2 separate regions of the Homo sapiens genome follow, and region 2 is linked to region 1. Evidence: fine-mapped expression QTL. Tissue or cell type: whole blood. Region 1 holds a variant in brackets; the other region holds the start of a gene. All regions are shown on one strand. Distances are between the middles of the regions.

Region 1 (8,000 bases):
TTCTACAACTAGTGCACTGCCAGGTTTTACAAGGTATGTCAGGCCAATTGATGATTGACAAGAAAATATAAAAAGAAATGGAATGGAAACACAGTATCTCCACCTGCAGGGTGAGAGCCTGGGTGGCACTGCTGGAATAGAAACTGTGGTTTCAGGGACTACACATATCTTATCTTGCTATTTCACCCACTGAGCCCCCAACCAGGTTAGAGAATCATATAATCAGTAATTTTAGCTAGATACAGCTCAGGTGCAAACGGACTACGGTTCTTTGTATATAGTATGTTGCTTTGATATTCTCTTAAGTTTACACTGCCTTTTCTCAGCAGTGGAGATGAATAAAAAGCTTGCTGCTGAGCTGGCTGCAGAGGGGACAAATACACAGCATGCAGGTCAAGGACCATCCCATAAGAAAAAGCAACTCTGTCTTTATAGAATACTGTACTTCTTTTTTTCTGAAATACAATGCTTTGCTACATACTCTATAAAAAAGACCCACAGATAACCTAACTTGAAATAGAAAACTGTTTAGAAAATAAAAGCTTTCTTTTCCAAGAGATGCTTAAAAAGATACAGAACAGAAAATGGTCTTGAATTTTTAAGTGCAAACTGAAATCACTCAGCTTTCTTTAAGGTCAAGTTGAATGTTAAATACCTAAGGCCAGTGTCTGTGTTAGTACTTGAACTAAGCTATACAAAACTCTGACAGTACTCATAGTATAGAAAACACAGAGGTCAGAAGGTTAATAATAACAGCAAAGTATAAATGACTCTTAGGAAGGAAGCTCAAAACTGCAGAGTTCCACCTACTCCTTTGTCCTCTACAGCAAAATGCCTCCCTTACGTGTCTCTATATTTGATTTGTAGGAGATATAAGCAGTATTTGATGTTTTCCTGCTAATCTTTTTTTCCTGCAAAGTTTGTTGAAAGGTAAAGGAAACCTGCCTCTCACTTTCTAAATTGATATTAAAGAGTACAAAAAAAGGGAAAACTACTCGATCTGTGGAACTGAGTTTTATACTGAAAAACACAATGGAAAAATTCCATGATAGTCTTTTTCAGTTTTTTTTTAAGGCTCAGTCCATGTAATTAAAAAAAAACCAACTTACGGTGTGAGTCAGGTCCATGACCCAATCCAACTCAGTATCTTCCAGTTGCTCTACACATGTGGTAGGAACAAATATAATTCTCCTAAATCTGATTGCCAACTATTCTAAATGGACGCAGTAAGATAGAGGTCTTCTTCAAAAATGCTAAGTGAAGCCCAGAGTCAGCACTAGGGTGAGGTAAGAGAGGCACCTAGGACACAGCACTCAGTCTCAGGCATGGGCACACCTCCGAGAGTGACTGCCTTCTTCAGCCCTAGTTCCTTACTGGTCCCTGGTCATGGACCTTACAGAGTCAGTTACCTAAGAAAATCGGAGGAAACCAGCAAAAAACCATACAAACAAACAGAAAAATCAAACCAGTGCTTTAACTGCTGAGGACTCTGAAGCAGAGATGACAGGGTCAAATAGTGGATAAAGACAAAGATGAAAAAATAAAAAAGGACGTTTGTTTAGGAGCGATAATAGTACATCTCTCTCTGCTTATTCAATCACCTATGGACTATTTCTTGCTGTATGACATTGTTTCTGAAAATTACACAAATGAGAGAAGAGTCAGTTCCTAAACTACCTAGTTACTCACCTGTTCATACTTCCAAGAAGCCCCATATTGCCTGTTAAATAGGCTCAGGCTTTACGAATTTATTTCAGATAACTTCTTTTAAGGTTTGTGGTTTGTTTTAAGATTTACCACTGTTTTATTTCTCTACTTTCCTTTCAGGGAAATCTTTGTACAATTAGGAATTAACACAGGATTTAGGACATTTCTGTGTCACACTGTTGAAATGTTTTTTTTTTCCGTGGTTAATGTCAAATTGAAAAATAACCAGTATATAAGGAACAAGTAACCTGACAGTTGTATGACCAAACTGCAATTTCTTTGAAATCAATTCTCTGCTGAAATGTCAATAAACTAATTAGAATATAAACTTACGTTAAAGCTTCTGAGTAATTATAATGAGGCAAGACTCCTAGAAACTTCTGTACTTCATCCATCACTGTAGCAGGATCAGTTCTTAGTTGTTGCCCATCAATAATTAGCAACTAAATTATCAAATAAAAAAATGCACATTGAAAAAAGACATGTAAACTGTATAATGAAAAATTTCTGCATTCTAAACTCATTCAGTGAGAGACACTGTCCTGAGCAGAATTGCATGCATTGGTGTTAGATAGAATCCAGGTCATCCTCATTAATGACCTGGAATAAGAAATAAATCACACCAATTAAGTACACTCAGGTTTGCAGTCTGAGAAGTCACACTATGAAAACAAAAAAGGCAGTTGAAAGACCAAGAGAGCTTAGAAAAGTGACTAGAAAATCACAAATGGAAACCAACTTTCAAAACAGACAAAGCAGTGATCCTGTCATTCAAGCTGGAAAGTACAATAGAAAAGAAGAAAGGTTATAATAAACTCAGATGTAATCTGACAGAGAACATGTCATTCCTCACGATTCCTTTCAGGAATAGCACTGTCAGGTTTGAAGAAATATTTCGATAATCCATATGGAGAATAAGGTTAGATTCTCAGGAAACTTGAACATGGACAAAGTTCCTCAAGAAACTAAGAAGAAGTTGCTTGTTATGCCAAGGAGGGTGGACCCAGCAAGATGAGAGGAGACCAGGATTAAAGGCCACAAAGCCTGCAAAGCAGGTCTTGTCTATCCATACCTCTTCTCTGATATTTCTGTTTAGCCTAGACCAGCACTGTTCAATAGAACTTTCTGTGATGATGAACATGTTCTATAGCTGCTGGGTCTAACATTTAGCTATTGAACACTTAAAATGTGGCTAAAGGAACTGAACTTTTCATTTTATTTGATTTTAATATAAATTAAAATAGCCATATGTGGTAGTGGCTGTCATACTGGAAAGCATGGCTCTAGACTCACAGGTATATACCATGTCTGATGTGTCTGGATTGCTTACATGATCCCATGAGGGGCTGATTTTGCAATCTAGGTTGATGCCAGGCAGAAGAAATTCAAGGGGCTGAGAAAAACATAGGACTTATCAAAAATTCAGCAAGGTGGTTCAAAAAGGAAATAATGGCACTTAATTAAGCAAAACATTATTTGTCTTGTTTGGTTAAGAGGTTCTCTTTCAAACTTTATTCTCAGGATAAGAATCGTATCTAAAGCTTTCAAAGCTTTTTACAATCAGGAAAGGTACGCACAGCAAATAGAGCAGGGAGAATTATTCTGAAATACTCTTAGAAAATTAAAGTTTTTCTACTTCTGCCTATTTCTCTTTGCCATAGCCTCATTATTTACAACTAAAGAGGAAAAACTAGTAATAGTTTAACAATTGAAAATTTTCTTAACCTTAAGGCAAAGTCATCAACTTAATGAGATTCTAACATGATGTAAATCCTTATTACTCCATACCTGAAATGGGGGGAAATAAACAAGCCATCTCTCGATGTGGCTGGCATACCACCCCGGGACCAAACATCTCTTCTGCAAGGCTCTGAGCTCCGAGGGTGCACGGGGCCCTGCTGAGATCACTTCGTAGAAGCTAAACTTCAGAGCTGCAGGGTCTTCATGTGATCGCTGATGCTATGATGAAAAGGTGGATAATTAAACTAATCTGAACCGTAGGCATAAATAATTAAAAATCAATCTTTGTGACAAGTCTCAAAGCTAAAGAAAGAAGTGCCTCACTGCTGGAGAGTTATCTATTTTGAAATTAGTAAAGGAAGAAAATGTTTGCTTGGAGCATCAGGATTTAAAGTTATGATACTTATGGGAGTAAATTTTTGAGAATTTATCTGGTAGAAGTTGAATTCCTATCGATAGGATTCCTTCACCAGCATTACTGAGTTGTTTCCTTAGTGTATGTATTTTATTGTGAAAGTAAACTTTTGAAAGCTGTGTTAATGCCCTCTTTCCAGCTCATAAGCAAACCATTTATAGTGTCCAGTGAATATCTATAATAGAGAAGCACCCTACTACCTCTGCCAAATAGTTTTGCTCCATCTAGTAATGCAGTTTTAGATTAGAAAAGGCCTATCAGCTCTTTTAAATGAAGAAAGTACTAGAAAGTCTGACATGTACATTATCTGAAATCCACAGCTTTTATCATACATTCCCTGATATCTAAAAGCCAAGATTATTTTATCTAATGGTAACCTTTGCGGTGAATCAGAATCATTTATTGTGCAGAAAATGCAGAAAGCAGCAATCCAACAGGATTGCTCAGGCTTAGGCCCATGGGTTTGAGGAAATCACCTTTTCTTTAAATTGGCCAATAAATATTCAGGCTTAGTGGTGAGTTTGTGGATGTTTACCTCATCTAGTTGAATAGCAAATTTTCTGCAATTGAGATTCAAATCACTGGACTACAAACTCTACTAGACTTTGTTAAGGCCTGCATTTTGCCACTGTGATTTATTTGTAATATTTAGGACATTTTGTTAGCTTGCAGCCTTAAAGCCTTCTTTTTCTGTAAATTCTCTATTTTTCAGGGACTAAGTGGTTGCCAAGCTCCAATTTTCTTCTTTTTCTTGGAGTCAATTAAGGCTTATTTCTCTTTTCTCCAGATACTTGGTGGAAAAGGTAGAAGTTGCAAAATCAAATCAGGCAATTTGCAATTTGCTGTATGTTTTGATTTAAAAGATGGCTTCAGGTTTGGCGTGAATGATTAGTATAGAATGGTGGATTTTTATGGATCTTAGCTTTCCAGGATGTCTCCACTCGCTATTTTTCAGATTATTATCAAAATCCCTAAGATTTCATCTGCTTTTATGACCTTTCCCTACT[A/G]TGTTCCTGCCACAAAACCTTTTCCAACAATCTGTTCTTCCTCTTGTGAACTTCAAAAACTGCTTTTGTTAAGTAGCAAAAGGACTCAGTAATGAGCAACTTTATTCTCTAATATTATGATTGTCAAGAACTTAGCTGTTTTAAATCAAATCAATAAGAATGGAACATCCCACTCTTGTAGGGAGGATCTAAGCTATGTGGGTCACTTTAACACAGGGAAGCAGTCATATATCCAGCCTATTTGCAGACTTCAGATTAGAGGTTTTTGTACATAGAACATTCCACGTTTGTCTTAACATTTTTGTTTCCAAGAAAATAGGACCCTCAGTCTGCTTTTCAGCACTGACCTGATGATAACTCCTTTACACAGCTCTGCTTTGCACCTATGAAAACACTTCTTCATTTTAATTTTGCCTAAATGTATCCCCTTACGTATCTTTCCCTTATTTAAGAAAGTGCCCCATGGTTCTGGTATTTGGGCTTCTCTGCGACAGCCTTTCCCAGGTGGTCTTTGTCAGGTGGGCTTTGTCATTCCGAAGGAGTCTGTATGTCAGTCGCTTATTACTTTCTAATTTATATGCTTGTTTATACATATTTCTCCAATTAGGCTGAAAGCAATTTCAAGTATAGCTTCAAATTTATTTTTCAAATCACACTTAGAACAAAACTTTGCACATGGTAGTCATTAAAATTACTTGATGAACGGATAAACACATGAACAGTAGGAAAGCATTTTTTAAGTTACAAAACTGAGAAATGAGAACTAAGGGTCCTAGAGACTAAAGACATTGACTCTATTAATTTTACTATGTTCTTATGTTAATTTTGACTGCTTCATATTAAACCCTTCCAACTGGTGGTTAAATTATCACCGAAACAAGTTTTAAAAGATTGTTTCCTATTTGCAATGATTTATTAAAAGTGTATTTGACATATATATTATTACTAGAGTTTGTTAAATTATTTCAAAGTGATCGTTTTTGTGCAAGGTTCTAACCAACATCAGAAAACAATGGCAATGAGTATACAAGAAACATTTAGACATGTTAGGCTCTCAGGGATGTAGAATTTTCTTTCTTTTTTTCTTCTTTCTTTTTCTTTCTTTCTTTCTTTCTTTCTTTCTTTCTTTCTTTCTTTCTTTCTTTCTTTCTTTCTTTCTTTCTTTTCTTTCTTTTCTCTCTCTCTCTCTCTCTCTCTCTTCTTTTGACAGAGTCTCCCTCTGCACAGTACATGCTGCAATCACAGCTCACTGCAGCCCCAACCTCCCAGGCTCAGGCAATCCTCCCACTTTAGCCTTCCAAGTAGCTGGGACCACATATGTGTGCCACCATGCCTGGCTAATTTTCTTTATTTGTAGAGACAGAGTCTCCCTATGTTGCCCAGGCTGGTCTTGAACTCCTGGGCTCAAACAGTCTTCCCACCTGAACTGGGCTCAAACAATCTTCCCACCTTCCAAAATGCTTGGATTACAGGCATGAGCCACCACGCCCAGCCTAAAGATTCTTATATATATTAGTTTTGCCACTAAGCTGTTTCTTTAGTACAAGTAGCTATTTAAGCTGTTTTAGAGCCAGGGTCAGCAATCTATGGCCTACTGCCTATTCAGTAAAGTTTTATTGGAACACAGGAATGCTTATGCATTTACATATTGTCTATGGCTGCTTTCGAAATACAATGGTAGAGTTGCAATGGAGACTGTATAAACCTCAATGTCTGAACTTGTTGCAATCTGACTCTTTATAGAGTACACAAGTATTAGATGAAAAAATAATGATTTTAAATTATTACCTTAAAATGCAGATATATAGAGGCATAGATATAAAAAAGTACATAATATTTTGTTATATTTTAATTTAGTTTCTTTTATTGCATTAATACATTTTATTAAATTAATTGATTAAGTTAATAAAATAAGAACAAAAACTTAGTGGAGGAAATTTCTCAATAGAAATCAAGAAAAACTTGTCCATTTTTCTGTAGATATCAAACAACTAGCAAATCTCTTTTGTGAAAACCTGAGCTAGTGGGTATTGCTAAAAACAATGCTCCATTGTCCATACTCCACTTCTCCCTGTTGGATTTTATTTGCATTTTCCTTACCTGGTACCAGGAGTATGCTCGGTCTGAAGGGTCAATGAGAATGGTGATAATCTTGGCTTTGGGAACCAGAGAAGCAGCTCTTTTAGGGGCTTCCTCTGAGTGGAAGTAATTGGCACTCTTCTCAAACAAAAAGTCGGTAGTGACATTAGATGGGACTGGGAAGAAATCCATATACCTAGAAAAGGAATATTTTTCTCAAAATAAGATTCTGGTTTATACTCATTCTGGTGACCAAAGATGTTAAAAGTGTCCCACAAATTCATGTGTTTCCTAAATAAAAGGCTTTTTCTTTACAGCATTTGTCCTCCATAGTTAGGAAGAGAAAAATATCTAGAACACTAATAATGTGTTTGGAAGATGTTTTTCTAAGTACATTTTCTTTATGTTTTGCTTAATATCAGGAAAAAATATAAGCAATAACAAAAATGTAGACACAGAGTGATCAAACTGCAACAGTGATCGACCTAACTATATCAAATGTGTCTCAATGTAGAAACACTGTACAGAGAAAAATTCAAGTACTCAAAAAGAAAATCGTATTAAAACAGACGATATGTTCAGTTCAGACATTTTAAAAGGATTTAGAGAAAATATTTTTTACTTTATTGCAAGTGAAATAATTTCTTTTCTACAAATGTATTGTGCCGGTGTTACGTTTAATCACATAGTGTGAAAGATGCAGAGTATATCTGGTATAAATATTGCTTATTTGCTTAATTTTTCTCATATAGAGCCACTTATGTTCCTCTTTAGAATAATTGTAAGAGAAGTTTAAAAACTATGTACATTCCAAATATAAAACTCTAACAAATTTCCCAAGGTCATGTTCTATATCCTCATGGGTAGAGAGAATTCAAATTACCAGCAGAATGAACACAGGGATATCTATAGGTTCAAGCACTGAAATGTAGAATTTTATTTAATGTTCCACCTGAATAAAAGTTGTCAAATGTAACTAATTCAGCATATGATAAGAAATATATCTGAAGCACTAAGGAACATCCTTTAGAGGAAAAGGGATTTTTTAGAGT
Region 2 (17,293 bases), 38 kb before region 1:
AAGGCTCGCAGTAAGCCGTGATCGCACCACTGCGCTCCAGCCTGGGCAACAGAGTGAACCCTTGTCTCAAAAAAGAAAAAAAAGATGTGTGTGTGTGTGTATTCCATATATACATATGAACTAACAACTTCATTTTGACAAGAATGGTACTGTTCGCCTTTTTGTTAGGTAAATATTTTTATTCTCAGTTTAATATAAACTGCTGATTGGTGAGCATACAAATTCTGGGGTTTACCTGCCAAAATCTACTTGATCCAGGAACACAGTGTATGTATGGAACATGTATGCTTTTTGCATTTTGGTTTCTATTAGTAATCTCTTAGGATGCTTACTTCATCCAGTGAAGTTCTGGGCATGTACGGGCAGGAGTTATGCCCACACTTTTGAGTCTTTGGTTCAGTGGTTCCCAAGTCTGACGGTGGATCTGAACCCCATGGATTTTCATGGGGTTTTTATAGGAAATAGAAACATTTTTTGATAGTTTTGTTATAATATGGTAATTGATAAGATCTCTTTTTAATTTCAGTAAGTTAGGGATGAGAGTGTATGTATGTGGACATGAATGTCTTTCAAAATAACTCATTCATTATACATTTATTAAGCGCTTTCTCTGTGCCAAGCACTTTGCTGGGTGCTAAGGATACAATAGTGATCATGACATGGTCCTTGCCCTTGAAAAGCCTTTAATTAAGTCCTAGAAACTGTTACATATGCATTGAGAGTGTTCAAAAGGATTGGCTAGCTTTCAGGAGAGCAGAAGATTAGGAGGAGCCTCCTAGGAGATCTTTGACTTGATCAGGACAAAATCAGGTTTTGCCATATTAGGATAGAGGGGATGAGAGAAACAACATTGCACATAGTTTGGATAATGACGTGGGTTTGTAAGACAACTCTTCAAACGGTGTAAATGACAGGAGCACAGGGGCCAGGCTGGTATCAGAGAGGGGAACAAGGACCAGTTCTTAGATGGATTTGTGTATCATTTAAGGAATTTGAATTTCACATAGATTGGGGATCCCTTGAAGGGTACTCAGAAGGAGTTATATTATCAGGCAGAAACATCACTCTGGCGGCAGCATGAGGGATGGGTTGAAAAATTTAAAACTTGAAGCGGCAAGTCCATTCAGGCGACTACTGCAATAGTCTTGGCATGAAATGACACATTAAGGCAAGATTGCCCAGGGCTTTAACATTGATATTATTTTAAAAATAAATTGCCTGTGCTAGTAATGTCCTGTTTCTTTGCTTACTGGTTGAAGACTCAATTTTTATAGATAATGCGGAATAGATTTATACAGCCAGTTTAGCTGCAAAGATTAATTTAGCCAAGCGTCACAGCTGTTTCTTACAGAATGGAAAATACTGTTGCAATAAGACTTAAAACAGAGTGAAATCTTGTCTCAAAAAAAGAAAAAAAAAGATAAAAACCCAAACAGGTCAAAGTACTTTAAATAATATATTTAACATAGTGTATCTAAAATATTATCATTGCAAAATGTAACTAATAGAAAAGTTGAGATATTTAATATTCTTATTATCTATAGGGACAATATTTTAGTTTTTTTTTCATACTAAGTATTCAAAATTCTGTGTATTTTGTACTTTCAGCACATCTCAATTCAGACTAACCATATTCCAAGTGCTGCAGTAACCACAGTTAGCTAGTGGCTACTATATCGGGCACTACAGCTCTAGATAATTTCTTAAATTCTATTAAAAAGATAAATGCAACATTTCAGCAGTACTTTCAAGGATGTATTTACAATAATTCTTGTGGGAAAAGTGTTAAATCATTTGGGGTTTTACTTTAAATATGTGAATGTACTGTTAATAAAATTTAATGAATATACTAGCGATATTACTAGCACACAGAAAGTAGAAGTGAAAATAAGTACTTGATTACTCTCCATGCCTATTACTTTTTAGTTCAGTATGTGAAATAATCCTAAATTTTACTTAAATTTTCAAGGAAGCTATAAGAGCATATACTTTAGGCACAATATATTAAAAAGCCTCTGAACTTTAAAGATATGTGATGATTTAAGATTGAGTCTCAAGAAATCACAGATTAACTATTAATATTAAAGATCAACAGTAGGTGGCTATATAAGCCAAATCATCTTTATTGCACTGTTTAGTTTTTGAGCGCTGACAGTTAATCATATATACGAGATGGTCAGAGCCCTACTTAAGGATTAGAATATTCAGGCATCTCATAACCTCCAGTAATTTTATAGAAGTGGGAAGTTTTATTTTAAATAGACACTAGAAAATGCCAAGCTTTTGAATACCAACTCAGTTCTAAGTTCACATTCAAGTACAGGTCTTGTAAACAATAAAAGACCCAAGTTTTGGTTAAAAAAAATTTAAGGTGAAAGTTGTTACATGCGTGCTTCCCCACTTTAACAGTTAGATGCCGGCACAAAATAGGTAGAGCTGATGAAACCAGGGCTGGAGTTTTGGCAGGTAAAAGACAAGCAGGGTAGTTTTTCGAGTGATTGTTGTAATGGGCAGACGGTAGAACCCAAGCCAGATAATAAGGGAAGTCATAAAAGACTAAAATGAAAAAATAGTAGGGCCAAAGGATAGAAGTCCAATGGGTTTGAAGGATTTTAGAGCTGTAAAAACAGAAGGCAGAAATAACGGTATGTGTGAAATCAAGATTTCAGAGGTGTGTGGTTACCTGGTGAATACAAGGTCTAGGTTTTACATTGTAAGTGTGTGGCTGAGATGAGGTGGAGAATACACTCATTGCAGATGAGTAAGTCAGGGAACTACAAAGGAAAAGTTATTGGAAATTAAGTCTTAAGAATGTTATAAGTAGTGGAATGCAATGAGCATGGAGCTCTAGTCTTCTGTGAAAAAGAGGAAGTAACTAGGAGATGGGTTGTGTCATGCATTCTAGGTCAGAGGTTCTCAACTGGGGGCAGTTTGCCTAACAGGGAACACGTGACTATGTCTGGAGACATTTTTGGTAATCGCAACTGGGGATGGAGGGTTTGTGTACCATGTACCAGTGGCGTCTAGTGAATAGGGGCCAGGGATGCTTCTAAACACACTATAATGCACAGGACAGCCCTCACAACAGATAATTACCTGGTCCAAAATGTTAATAGGTTCTGAGATTGAGAAACCCTGCTTTAGGTGGGTTTGGTATCAGAATCATCATACTTTAGTATGATGGCTGAAAAATGGGCTGAGAACTATCCATCTGGTAAATATTGCTTCTATTTTAATGGACTATAGAAAGTATACATTAATAATAAGCATTCACTAACTTAATCAATTTTTTGCATTCCTAATTAATGGCACAACACTATTTTAGGTGTTTTAGATTAATCAGTGAACACAACAAAGATATCTCTGACCTGGAATAGCTTTGACTCAAGCAGGGAGGAGGATAAATGCAATAAATTGTAAATTAGATAGTTTTGTTACAAAGTGATGCTTAAAAACGAGGAAAAGTAGAGATGAATGATATTGGGAGTGTTTGATGATGGGAGGAAAAAGAAAGATGGGTTGCAATTTTAAATACGAGGGTGTCAAAGTAGGCTTCATTGAGGTGACATCTGAATAAAGATTTAAAAGAGGGGAAAGGATAGAAGGAATATATGTTTATCTGAAAGTATAGTTTGGGTTTGCATTCACTTTAGAGGAAAGGGAAGTAGTTTAAGTCCACCTTGCAAGAGTGAAGTCGATTGTACTAAGTACTTTGAGGGACACAAAGTTAGTTTCTGCCCTCACAGAGCTTCATGACAAACTAACAATTCTTGGAAATAACAGGGCAACAACACAGGACAATAATTTTGACCTATTCCTGTTTTGATCGCTTTTCATTTGGGAAATGACAGATTAATGATTAGTCTTTATTTTCCACTCATCCTCCACATTTGCTCCTTCTTGGAGAACAGATTACATAATGAAATGAAGATGAGGTTATGACAATGGGTTTGCAGTAGAGGATCAGGAATGGTGGGTCAGATAAATGGAAAGAAAGGTTGAATTTACAAAAGGGGCTGATGATTTGGAAGAAAGGCTTGTATCTTCATTAGTCTTCCTTCTTGACAATAATTTTCAGTATCTGAAGCAAGTCTCTCATTAGTACTCTCTGCCTCTCAGGTATGGCAACAGCACTAGGAGCTATGCTGTTAGGGTTGGAGATTATCATACTCTGGTACCAGAGGAGTTTGAGGAAGAAATTGGAGTTCAACAGATTGTGATTCATCGGGAGTATCGACCCGACCGCAGTGATTATGACATAGCCCTGGTTAGATTACAAGGACCAGAAGAGCAATGTGCCAGATTCAGCAGCCATGTTTTGCCAGCCTGTTTACCACTCTGGAGAGAGAGGCCACAGAAAACAGCATCCAACTGTTACATAACAGGATGGGGTGACACAGGTAAGGCATAATCAAAAAAAGCAGGGCACCTTTTTGTGTCTGGTATTATCCATATATTTGGGTGTGCAATGGGCAATAAGATCTTAAATGGATTCAGACTTATTTGGAGAAATTTTGCTTAGTGTGAAATGCATGCATGTAATTGAGACTTATATTCTGGAGGTATTGTTGGTTCTAATGAGAACTTTAGCATAAACTGAGAACTCAGTTTAATTCAGTGAAGTAGATATGAATTGATGTGCTAATGCGAAACCAGCATTAATGCATTCTATGCTTTTTAATATACAGAATTCAAATACGAAAGCCTGCACAAATATGCTTTCTTAGGTCACCTTACTCTACAAATCCATAAATGTTATTCATTATTCCTCAGACAATTCAGTACTGAGAAATTTGTGAAGGTTAAGATTGTGTCAACATTAAAAAAGGCAGCTAACAATAGTACATACCAGTTAGTCATTGCTCATTTTAAACTACACTAATGCCACAACAGGGATTTTATTTTCATAACTATTACATGCTCAGTAACTGTTAAATGTTGCGATGGTTATCTGGAATGCCACTAATCAGATGTTTGGTCTGAGTAGGACGAGCCTATTCAAGAACACTACAACAAGCAGCCATTCCCTTACTTCCTAAAAGGTTTTGTGAAGAACGTTATAAGGGTCGGTTTACAGGGAGAATGCTTTGTGCTGGAAACCTCCATGAACACAAACGCGTGGACAGCTGCCAGGGAGACAGCGGAGGACCACTCATGTGTGAACGGCCCGGAGAGAGCTGGGTGGTGTATGGGGTGACCTCCTGGGGGTATGGCTGTGGAGTCAAGGATTCTCCTGGTGTTTATACCAAAGTCTCAGCCTTTGTACCTTGGATAAAAAGTGTCACCAAACTGTAATTCTTCATGGAAACTTCAAAGCAGCATTTAAACAAATGGAAAACTTTGAACCCCCACTATTAGCACTCAGCAGAGATGACAACAAATGGCAAGATCTGTTTTTGCTTTGTGTTGTGGTAAAAAATTGTGTACCCCCTGCTGCTTTTGAGAAATTTGTGAACATTTTCAGAGGCCTCAGTGTAGTGGAAGTGATAATCCTTAAATGAACATTTTCTACCCTAATTTCACTGGAGTGACTTATTCTAAGCCTCATCTATCCCCTACCTATTTCTCAAAATCATTCTATGCTGATTTTACAAAAGATCATTTTTACATTTGAACTGAGAACCCCTTTTAATTGAATCAGTGGTGTCTGAAATCATATTAAATACCCACATTTGACATAAATGCGGTACCCTTTACTACACTCATGAGTGGCATATTTATGCTTAGGTCTTTTCAAAAGACTTGACAAGAAATCTTCATATTCTCTGTAGCCTTTGTCAAGTGAGGAAATCAGTGGTTAAAGAATTCCACTATAAACTTTTAGGCCTGAATAGGAGTAGTAAAGCCTCAAGGACATCTGCCTGTCACAATATATTCTCAAAGTGATCTGATATTTGGAAACAAGTATCCTTGTTGAGTACCAAGTGCTACAGAAACCATAAGATAAAAATACTTTCTACCTACAGCGTATAAACTAGCAAAATTTGAAAGGATTTCTGGTAACTAAATGCCAGCTGGACATACAACCTATTTTATCCAACACATTAACATATCTACTATATTTGCTTTTAACAAGCACCTCATCATAGTCCACGTTCCCCGACCATGATGTAAGAGTGCCACCCACTGACACTTCCCTGTAACTGACTTATACCTGCAGGTTTTCCCAAGCCCAACCTGATACAATCCAATCTTAAAATATACTAGTCAAAATGCTTTCCTGGCCTACACATTGAAAAGTTCTAATACATACAGCAGTTATAACATATGCCAGGCACTGCATTAGGCAGCTTTGCACATCACTGACAATTTGCAAAAGGCCAGTAAATCTTATGGTAGTAGCCCTTGTTTTCAAATGGGGGAAAACAGGCTTGCCTCAAAGTGAGACCAGTTGGTGAAACTGATTCCAAACTCCAGAAAAAATGCTGATTTTTTTCCCCATGGTTCTCCTACCTAAATGATTGGTTTCCCTATGGCTATTTCTCCAAGAGTTAAGGGATAGCTGCTTAACTATGCACCTTTACAGAACATTCTTAGCAGTAATGCTCAAATTTAAAAGGCACACTCAAGATACTTCCATGTCATGGATCCTTCCCCAGGTCCCAGTAGTATAAATATAGGGAAGAGGTTAGCATGAACTTACAAATTGTTTTAAGTAATCCTCTTGAATGCCAGTCATTAAAGGACTTTGCCCTTCTACATCAAATTACATCCTTTTCACAAATCCCCATTTCTGTAATAACTGGTGCAAACCTAAAGGTGCTTTATAGTTTTACTACTTTGCAGATTTGCAATGCTGCATATAATGCAGAAGAGCATTAAAAACTTTTGTAAAAACTCATGATTTTGATAAACTTTTAAAGTAGCGTTTATATGTAAATAGAACTACACATGGCACACACACTTGCACAAGGGCTTCAGAAAAACGTGCAATATAGGTGAGAAAAATGTCTATTGAAACTTTCTCACAGGCTGCCCTTATAATTAAACTAGTGTTGGGGCAAGCAACATCTGTTTCAAGTAGATCAGGGACTAGCAAACCTAAAAGGCAGCAAGCAGCCTGCAGTTTGCTCAATCCTTAAGAATACATGGTTCATACAACATGCTTTTACTATGTCTTAAGTGTGACTTTTGAAAGATACAAGTGTTCTGTGCATATTTGTGTAAATAAATACATAATTTTCCACCTTGTATAACTGCCTTAAATTTTTGTATGGTTTAAAAAGAGTCTGCTGTCTCCCTTGGGGGTAGCCTGGTAATTTTTATATTTTACATTTTTCACAAAGGCTGCAATTACCTTAGAACTGTACTCACACTACTTCCACATGAGCGTGTAACACTAAATAGGAGGTATTATGCTATTAACTACCTTTCCGTCTATTAATCACTCAGTCAAGGAACAATGAGTAGCCACATGAATTAAGCATTTTATTTAATTATCACGGACCACCTTAAATATTACTTTACAAAATTCAGGCCTATATTTAAAATAGGTGTCCTGATAACTTCCAGGATATTATTCGGAACACCCGTTTCCCCAACTACGATAAGTCCATTGCCGGATGCTGAATAAACTTCGCCCATTACCACTTGGATTTCTTGATAGTCTGCAAGAGAAAAAAAGCATTATAAAACTCCGAGCTGTGTACTTACCTCACTGTTTTGAGATCTTATCAGCTAATTCAGTTGGTTGTTAACTCAAACTACAAAAGCCAGCAAAACGGGCCAACTTTAGCTTTCCAACGTCCTGCCGCTAAGGCGTTTCAGATTAACTCAGAAATATCAAAAAAGAAATGTACCTTATGTTTCCATCATCCATCGTAATGTGTTCAGCTCAGCTTCCTAGAAACATTGAACAACGGTTTAGAAATTTTGCCCAATAACCCGGCACCCTCTAGGTTTTTAACAGTGAATGTTACTTGTGCAAGTCAGAATCTGATACCAATTAAATGGTGACAGCTTTGCCAATAAACAAGGATATGCTCTTCCATGGCTAGGAAGGGAGACTGCCACGGCTGACAGGTCCCAAAGATACATGGAGATTCACAATCCAGAATTAACCAGCAACCAAACTGCTACAGGTTATTACTCACCATCTGGCTCAAACTGACGGTTCTCGGGGTGCTAGGGCACAAGAGCGACAGAGTAGACTCAAGATGGCCACATGACACAGACGGCTGAACAGGCTTCACCGGAGTCCCCGAGTGCACGGAACCTTTCCCCGAGGGCCCACGGCCCACGCACGCCGGGGTTCAGGGTCCAGGGCTGCACGTGGACGCCCGGCGACCTAATGAGCACTCAAGTCCGCGCATGCTTGTAAACTTAAGGGTTTCCAAAGCCGCCCCCGACCTACCAATATCCTGACTGCGCTGCCTTTTAGGTAAGGCAGTAAGTTTCGGCCCAATTATCATTTTAACTTACGAAAGACAACTACGTACTTTCACCTAATCCCGACGCTTCCCGAATGTGAAAGGCCGAGGCCTTCGGCACACGCTCTCTTATAGAACTGATGACGCTATTCCGGGGGAAGCGCCGCGAGGGGCGGAGCCTATGCTGTTTCACTCCCCGCCCCGCCTAGCCCCGCCGCGGCTCCACCTGTTCCGTCTACCACCCCCTTCGCGGCTCCTTTCCCCCCTCCCCCGCACATGGTCCACGTCTGAGCGGGTCACCTGGCTCCGGATCCAGACGCATGCGCACATACGAGAGCCAAAAGGTTCTCGCATAGCGAAAGATCCTGACGCTTACCGGTGTAGGTCACGAAAGCGAGGGGGATTTTTTTGGTATTTCCTGTTTAGGATACTTATTTTAGACAATATTAGAAAAAGGGGCCGAACGCGGTGGCTCACGTCTGTGATCCCAGCACTTTGGGAGGCCGAGGCGGGCGGATCACTTGAGGTTAGGAGTTGGAGACCAGCCTGGCTAACATGGCGAAACCCCGTTTCTACTAAAAATACAAAAATTAGCCTGGTGTGGTGGTGAACGCCTGTAGTCCCGGCTACTCGGGAGGTTGAGGTGGGAGAATCTCTTGAGCCCGAGAGGCGGAAGTTATGGTGAGCTGAGATCGCTGGTTAGCATTTTACAAATTACCTAATCACTACTCAAAAACAAGAAAAGTCTGAGAAACTATTATGCCAGAGAAAATGATGCATAATGATTAAATGTAATGTGGTATCCTGGCTGGGATCTCCAGCAGAAAAAGGACATTAATGGAAAACTAGCGAATCTGAACAAAGTGTGGAATTTAGGTAATAGTGCCAATACCGATTTCTTTATTGTGACAGATATACCATGGTATTGTAAGATATTAATGGTAGGGGAAATTGGATGAAGGGGGTGTGGGGACTCCATTTTTGCAAATTTTCTGTAAATGTAAAACAAAGTTTAACTTAAAAAAGCAATTATAACCTTACAGTCTATTATACTTTCATTTTAAGACAAAGTAGTGATTTAGTAGTGGTTTCTATCTACTTTAGTGTGAAATTTGTGGCTGAGATGACAGTATTTCTAAGTTTGACTTGAGATCAAACCCAATGAATTTAGCTGCATTCAAACCAAGGCTTTGAGCCTTTGGATATTCAGGAGAGACAATGTGGTAACAAATAAAAGAATTAAAAATTGGTTGGTAAATGAAGATTGGCTTAAGGATTTTATTTTATGTATTTATTTATTTAGAAACATTCTTGCTCTGTTGCCTAGCCTGGAGTGCAGTGGCATGATCTTGGCTCAGTGCAACCTCCACCTCCTAGGCTCAAGCGAGCCTCCTGCTAGGCGTGTGCCACCACTTGGCTACTTTTTTTTTAAGGTTTTTTTTTTTTGAAAGACAAGCCCTCACTATATTGCCCTCAGGCTGATCTCCTGTGCTCCTGGGCTCAAGTAATCCTCTTTCCTCGGCCTCCCAAAGTGCTAGGATTGCAGGTGCAAGCCACTGCGCCCAGCCTAAGGATTTTAAAGATAGAATGCAAGGTGAACCTGTTAGAACTGATCAAATGATGGCTAGGTAACATTTCAGTTCTGCTTTTGATACATGGAGTGAACAGTTCATTATAGAATATTTATTCTTCAACAATGCTTTTCCCTGCACTATATCTTTTTTCCTTTTGTGGTTTAGTGTTGAAACTGGTAGTCATCAGAAAAATTTAACATAGAATGGCACATCTGTCATATGAATGCTGAGATGAATAGGAGAAAATATAGTGAGGAAATAACCTGTGGACTTATTTCTATCTTAAAACACTTAGCAAATCTAAACTTCCAGTGTATACTAGCAGCGTGATACTTCTGCTGTAAAAATTGGTTTTGCTGCAGTAATAAAAGTATAGTGTATTGCAGTATGATCTAGTGTTAAAAAAAAAGCATAGTGTCCAAAAGAGAGGAGATGGACGTTCCCTCCTATCTATATTAAAATATTCTTGTCAGTTCTGAACATCTTGTTCAGTTGTTAAACATTTACTAGACTCCAGCAAATGTTTATTGAGCAGACATGGCCTTTGCCTCAAGACTTGAGAATATAATTGAGTAACTTACAGTTAGTGCCATTACAATGTTTTCCAAATCATTCAAAGTTCAAAGCAAAGAAATTAGTTCTTATTTTTCCCTATCCTTTATTTTCAGTATTTGATATATTTTTGTATCAACCAATGTATTAGTTATCGATTGCTGTATATCAAATTAGCCTAAAGCCTAGTAGCTTAAAAAAAAATAAGCACTTACTATCTCAAATAGTTTTTGTTGGTCAGGAATCTAAGAGCAGCTTAACTGGCTCAGTGTATCTTGTGAGGTTGCAGTCAGGATGTTGACTGGCATTGCAGCCATCTGAAGGCTTGACTGGGGCTGGTGCGGCAGGATTCTCTTTCAAGGTGGCTCATTCACAGACCTGACAAGTTAATGCTCATTGTTGGCAGGAAGCCTCAATTCCTCAGCATGTGAATCTCTCCATAGGGCTGCTTGACTGTCCTCATGATTCTCGTGGCAGCTGGCTTTCCTCAGAGTGAGTGACTCAAGAGAGGAAGCTCCAACACTTTTTATTGTGGCCTACACACCATCACTTGTTAGAAGTTAGTTATTAATGCCAGCTCACATTCAAGGGGAGGGAAATTAGCCCGTCTTGAGGGGAGTATAAAATTTTGTTGACAAATTCTAAAAGTGTCACAGTCAGGATGGATGAAGTTGTGTTGCAGTTACAGAAGATCCAAAATCTCTGTGGCTTAAAACAACAGAGATTTGTTTCTTGTCATGCTTATGTTCATGTTAGAGACCAGGCTAATGAGGCCTTCACCATTTGTAATGGTTCTAGGCAACATAAAGGGAGAAGGGAAAATAGTCATTATGTTCTTAAAGGATTCCATTCTGATGTGACATATGTTACTTTGACTCATATTTATGGACTAAAGCAAGTTCCATGGCCACACCTAACTCCAAAAGCCTGGGGAAATGGAATCCTACTGTGTGCTTAGAAGGAAGATAATCGGAAGTATTTCAATATATTATTATAGCACTAATGATTTCTACAGTGGCCAAGTTACAACTGTTTACATTATTTTTATAGTTACCTTTTCTCTATTGTTACATTGTGTATTAGTCTGATCTCACATTGCTATAATGAACTACCTGAGACTGGGTAATCTGTAAAGAAAAGTTTAATTGTCTCATGGTTCCACAGTCTGTACAGGAAGCATGGCTGGGGAGGCCTCAGGAAACATTCAGTCATGGCGGAAGGGGAAGCAGGCACATCCTACATGGGCAGAGAAGGAGGAAGAGAGAGCAGAGGGAGGTGCAACACACTTTTAAATAACCAGATCTCGTGAAAACTCACTATCACAAGAACACCAAGGGCAAATCAATGATCCAATCACCTCCCACCAGGCCTCTCCTCCAACACTGGGGATTACAGTTCGACACTGGGCAGGGACACGAATCCAAATCCAAACCATATCACACTGCTAATCTAAGATAATATGTCTGAGCTGTCTCCCTACATTTCTAATTCTCTCTTCCAATCAACTAAGTATATTAATGAAAGATTAAATTTCTGGAAATATTTTCTACATGTTAAGCACTTGTTATAGAAAGTGTAATGACTTTCCTACTGATTATCAGGTAAAATTCCTCATCCCAGGCCAACATACAATGTATGTTACACTTAGCATGCTCATTCCTATTTTTGTTCATGCTATTTCATAGAATAGAATATTCTACCCATTCTTCCTACCCATCCTTTAAGATGCATCTCAGTTCTTATTATTTTTTATAGTAATCTTTCTTTTAGAACATTAGAAAATATTGGTCTCATCTCATTTTTGCCATCCTTAATACTTATTCTTTGTACTGTACATTAAAAAAAATTCTCATGACTAAATAGTGAGTTTCTACTATATCCCAGGTCCTGTCATAGATGCTGTGGCTAGAAAGAGTAAACAAAATAGAATTTAAAAAAATTTCATGGAGCTTACATTTTAGTGGCAGAAAACAGATGCAAATAAGAGTATTAGAGTTCTATCAGAATCAGAACTACTAGGAAATACATATGATTAAAATCATATATGTAGAATCTGACCTTACACAATTGTGCAGTGGAGGGACCAAGGAAAATTGGCATCTACAAGAATGAGCTGTAATCCATGAGAATGAACTAGAATCAGGACCAATCTCTTCCTGGTTTCAAGGGTTTAGCTTTGATGATGGAGGTGATCTGCAAGAGAAGCTGATGCCCTTTGTCACAGACTTAGGGATTGTTGAAGTTGAAACAGAAGATCTGGGATGACTGAAGAAGCTATAGATCTGGCTACTGCCCCACACTTACAAGACAATTAGTAGATAAGTGATAACTTGCATGATCTGCAACATTGCCTGATGCCCCACACTGACCTTCCAAGTGTAAAAAGTGTATGCTGCTTTACTTTGATTTGCCAGGTCTCATACAAAATGTCTCCTGTGGTCTTTCTGAACGTGGAATTATTCAGGGAAGGGAAGGGAAATGTAGGACTAGCTTAGCTAAACTAAAGTAGAAGCCAATCACAATATGTAAATTATATGGTATGTTAACGTCAATGAGTGCTGTGGAGAAAAACAGCACAGAAGATGAGAAGTGTTTGGAAGGTAGGAATTACAATTTTAAAAAGGTGTTCAGGGGAAATGTCATTCAGAAAGTGACACAAGGTCAACAATTTGAAGAACATGAGGGAGCAAAACATGCAGACATTTGGAAGAGGAATATTCGAAGCAACCAATGCTTTCTCATTGGGGCCATACTTGATACAGTAGGCAAAGTTCCCAGTGACCTCACCTCATGTTATTCCTTCCTTTATGTAATCTCTTGAATGGCAAAGTGGTGAAATGTGAGACCAGGTATTAAAACCTGACTTGTGTTTTGCTACCACTTCCTCTTGTGTCTTTCTGTATTGCTTGCTTTGATCTAGCAAGCTGCTATGTTGGAGAGGCCCATGTGGCAAGGAACAGAGTTGCCTCTGGCCAACATCCCACAAGGAACTGAGGCTATCAGACCAGTAGTCCATGAGGAATTGAATTCTGTCAACAACCATATGAATGAGCTTGGAAGTGGATCCCTACCCAGTTGAGCCCTGAGATGACTATAGCCCCAGCTGTTGATGGCAGCCTGGGAGGGACACTGTAGCAGAGGATCCAGCTAAGCCACACGTGGATTCTTGACCTACAGAAAGTGTGTGAGATAATAAATTCTGTTGTAAGCTACTACATTTTGGGATAATTTGTTATGAAAGAATAGATAACTCAGCTTGGCATGTTCGAAGAATAAAATTTGGACCAGTTTGGCTGGAATGAGGTAAGCAAGTAGGAAGTGAAGTTAGAAAGGTAATGATAGGCTACCTATGGCCTTATAGGTCATTATACAGTTTTTAGTTTTTTTGGAATAAGTTGGATAGCCTTTGGAGAGTTTTGAGTAGAATGACATGATCTAACTTAGGATTTACATGTTCTCTCTCAAAGCTCTGTTTAGAAAAATTCTAGGGTAGCGATGGAGATAATGGTAGAGCAGGGAAAACAGTTAGGGTAGTGCAATAATAAGATGAGCTATTGGTGTTGGGTTAGTGGTAGCAGTGAAAGAAATAAATGATTCAATTCTGGAAATATTTTTATTGTAGAGCTGACAGTATTTGCTGACAGATTGGATATAGTAAAGTATATAAGATAAAGGGATTCTAGGCTATGAGAAAAATGACTAAGGTTTTTGGTGATTTGCTGAGATGGAGACTGCAGGAAGAGCAGGTTTTCGGGGAGAAGTATTTAGGAGCACAGTTTTGTATGTTATGTTTGAGATGCTTTTTAGGCATCCAAGTGGAAGTGTTGAGTAGAGAGTTCAATATATGAATATGGAGGTCTGGGGAGAGGTTTGGCCTGAAGAAAGAAATATGTGAATTGTCAAACTATGGATGGTATGTAAAGCCATGAGATCAGATAATTGTACCAAGGGAGGAAGGATAGATAAAAAGTAGGATAAGAAGCCAGGTGCAGTGGCTCACACCTCTAATCCCATCCCATCACTTTAGGAGGTTGAGAGAGAAGACTCTTTGGAACCTATGAATTTGAGACCAGCTTGGGCAAATGGTGAAACTCCGTCTCTACAAAAAATTTTTTTAAAAAATTAGCCAGGTGTGGTGGCACACACCTGTAGTCCCAGCTACTCGGGAGGCTGAGGCAGGAGGATCGCTTGAGCCCACGAATTCGGGGCTGCAGTGAGCTATGCTCATGTCACTGCACTCCAGCCTGAGCATGAAACCAAGACCCCATCTCTTAAAAAAAAAAAAAGAAAGAAAAAAAGAAAATAGGATAAGAAACTGAGCCTTGGAGCCTGTCAATATTAATCTACCAGGAAAAACAGTAGGAACCTGCAAAGGATGTTGAGAAGTAATTTAAGGAGAAAAGCCAGCAGAGTGTGATACCTTAAAAGTCAAAAAAGTTTTTCAAAAGAAAGTGGTCAATTGTTTATGATACAAGTAGGATGGAAGTTGAGAAATGACCATTGGAGTTAGCTATATGAGGGTCACTTGGGACCTTGTTGAGAGTAATTTCAGAGAGAACAGGAGAAGTATTGGAAATCATGGATTCGGAACAACTATTTTGAAGAGTTACACTGTAAAGAGGAAGAAAAATGCAGCAATATCTGGAAAGGGATGTGGGATCAAGAATGGGTCATTTTTAAAGGATAGGAGAACTTAAAGTATGTTTGTATTCTGATGGGAAAGATCCAGTAGAAATGGAAAAACTGATGATGCAGCAGATATGTGATGAACTGCTTAGGAAATGAGATGGGATCTAGTGCACAAAAGTAGGGGTTACCCTAAGATAATAGTTTAGGCAGTTCATCTATAGAAATAGGAGTACATGGGTACAGGTGCTTGTGGATGAGTGGGTGGTGTGAACTTTGAATGTTCTCATCTACTAATGTTTTTTTCCGGGGTAATAGGAAACCAGGCCATCAACCGAGAGTGAGGATCGGGGAGAGAGTGTTGGAAATTTGAGGAGAGAGGAAAAAATATAATTAGGAGATGGCATCAATAGACTTGGAAAAGTAGTGGGTTTCCCCGGTCACATTAGGAGCTCACTTGAGTTCTTGTAATGAATTCAAAGTCAAATCTCTAGCATGATTGTGTATTTTCTCTTCATCATGCTCAACTGCATAGGTGCTGGTATGGAGCTGACAGGGAGTTGGAGTTAACCAAGTTGCAGTTTGCCAAGAGAGTGAGCAAAGTGATAGAAGGGAAAAGGAATGCATGCAAGGGACTGGTTATATTGATTTACCATGACATTTAAGTTAGACAAGAAGAGATGCTAATACTTGAGAACAGTGAGGGACATTGATAATGTGGTTTAAGTTGGATCCATGAATTTTGAGGTGATGGTGATCCAAGAATTTTGGAGCTGGGATTTTAGAGTAAGTGTTTGACATTGTGAAACATTTATAATATAAATTTATTGAAAAGTTTGGCAAGCAACATTGTGAGCCTTTTATGGTTTAGCCTGAAAAATTGGATTGCCTATGTGTTCTATGATCTCAAACTGGCCTCCAGCACTTTAAGAGTGAACGCCTGACTTGGTTGTAGAAGCTTGCACGTCAGTGAGATTCTGCACTTATGTTTCATTAAATATTTAACATCTCAAAAGCTTGACTTTTTCTTTCTTTCGAAGATGGCTTGTGGTACTTGCTTTAGTCTATTTCCTAGTGAGGCTTTTTTTTTTTTTTTGGGCTTACTTGCCTTTATGCAAAATAAGAGTGTTATTTATTTTAACATTTAATATGGCATATTAAAAGAGAAGATCTTGTTTTGGAGTATTCATAAACTAACAATTTAAAAACATCTAATGCTTTCATCCCATATCAATTAAGATAATTTGAAAATTTAATGATCACTTGTTAAAATTCTCCTTTTTCTACACACAATATAGATTACAGATGTCTTAGGATGTCAAACATTTACTCTAGTACCCCAGCTCCAAATTACTTTGGCCCATTATCCATAAGCATTATAAATATCTGTATTAGTGGGAAGATAAGCTTACGTTTATGTAAAACTTGATGGAACGAAACAAAATCACATGAAACAACAGTTTTTATGTGGCCACTAGATGGCTCTGTTACACTATTATTTAGGTATATGTTTAAATCCCTTTGAATTTGTTACCTTATTATTTAGGTATGTGTTTAAAGCCCTTTGAATTAAATACATTTGTTCATTGTGCATGCATGTATTAATGTATATGTGGATAATAACATGAAAATGTCAGCATATCTAGTATCTCTAAAAGCCTATCCTCTGGACTCTAGTTTTATATGATGAATGTCTACAGTGAATATTGAAAACTTCAGGTTCTACCAGAAAGGAACAACTTTCTCCAGATGCATATTCTAAACATACCATTGGAATACACCAGACCTTTTTAATATGTGAACTTGATATACAGATTTTTAACATACTGAATTCATCAATTAGAGATTTAATTCATTTCCTACTGTCTGAAGTAGTTAATACACTGTTAATGTGTTGTATATCAAACTAGACAATGATTCTGTTGGAGAAATAAAATATTTCTGCCCAGTCTACTGGAGGGCAAGAATGTAGTCATATTCATCTTACCTGCAGTAGTACTTTGGAACATGCTCAATGAAACGTTTGTTGAATGAGGAAGCCAGGATGATAAAAGTGAAAAAGAATTCTGGGAAATTATACATAATGTACAGAAGGAAAAATGAATGCAGGGTAGTACATTTAAGCAAAACTGGCAAACTTTTTTGAATGTAGCTTAGTATATTACGGCAAAG

Evidence for each region.
Region 2: SNHG8 starts here. The variant in region 1 is fine-mapped to the expression of SNHG8 in whole blood (INTERVAL, PIP 0.99).

The regions. Positions count from the first base shown.
Region 1 is chr4:118,236,190-118,244,189 of GRCh38, reverse strand. It overlaps NDST3 (N-deacetylase and N-sulfotransferase 3), which reads right to left. Exons shown (of 14, transcript NM_004784.3): 10 at 6,970-7,144; 11 at 3,496-3,666; 12 at 2,041-2,150. Among named protein-coding and RNA genes, the nearest start is that of SNHG8, 39 kb to the left of the region's middle. The variant A/G (reference allele first, on the strand shown) is at 4,870.
Region 2 is chr4:118,269,938-118,287,230 of GRCh38, reverse strand. It overlaps SNHG8 (small nucleolar RNA host gene 8), which reads right to left and starts at 8,469. Exons shown (of 3, transcript NR_034011.1): 1 at 8,439-8,469; 2 at 7,800-7,842; 3 at 7,408-7,607. It overlaps PRSS12 (serine protease 12), which reads left to right. Exons shown (of 13, transcript NM_003619.4): 12 at 4,120-4,400; 13 at 4,988-7,193. The coding sequence ends at 5,295. SNORA24 (small nucleolar RNA, H/ACA box 24) reads right to left here and starts at 8,041; the gene lies at 7,911-8,041. RefSeq lists a silencer at 8,642-8,691 and an enhancer at 8,762-8,941.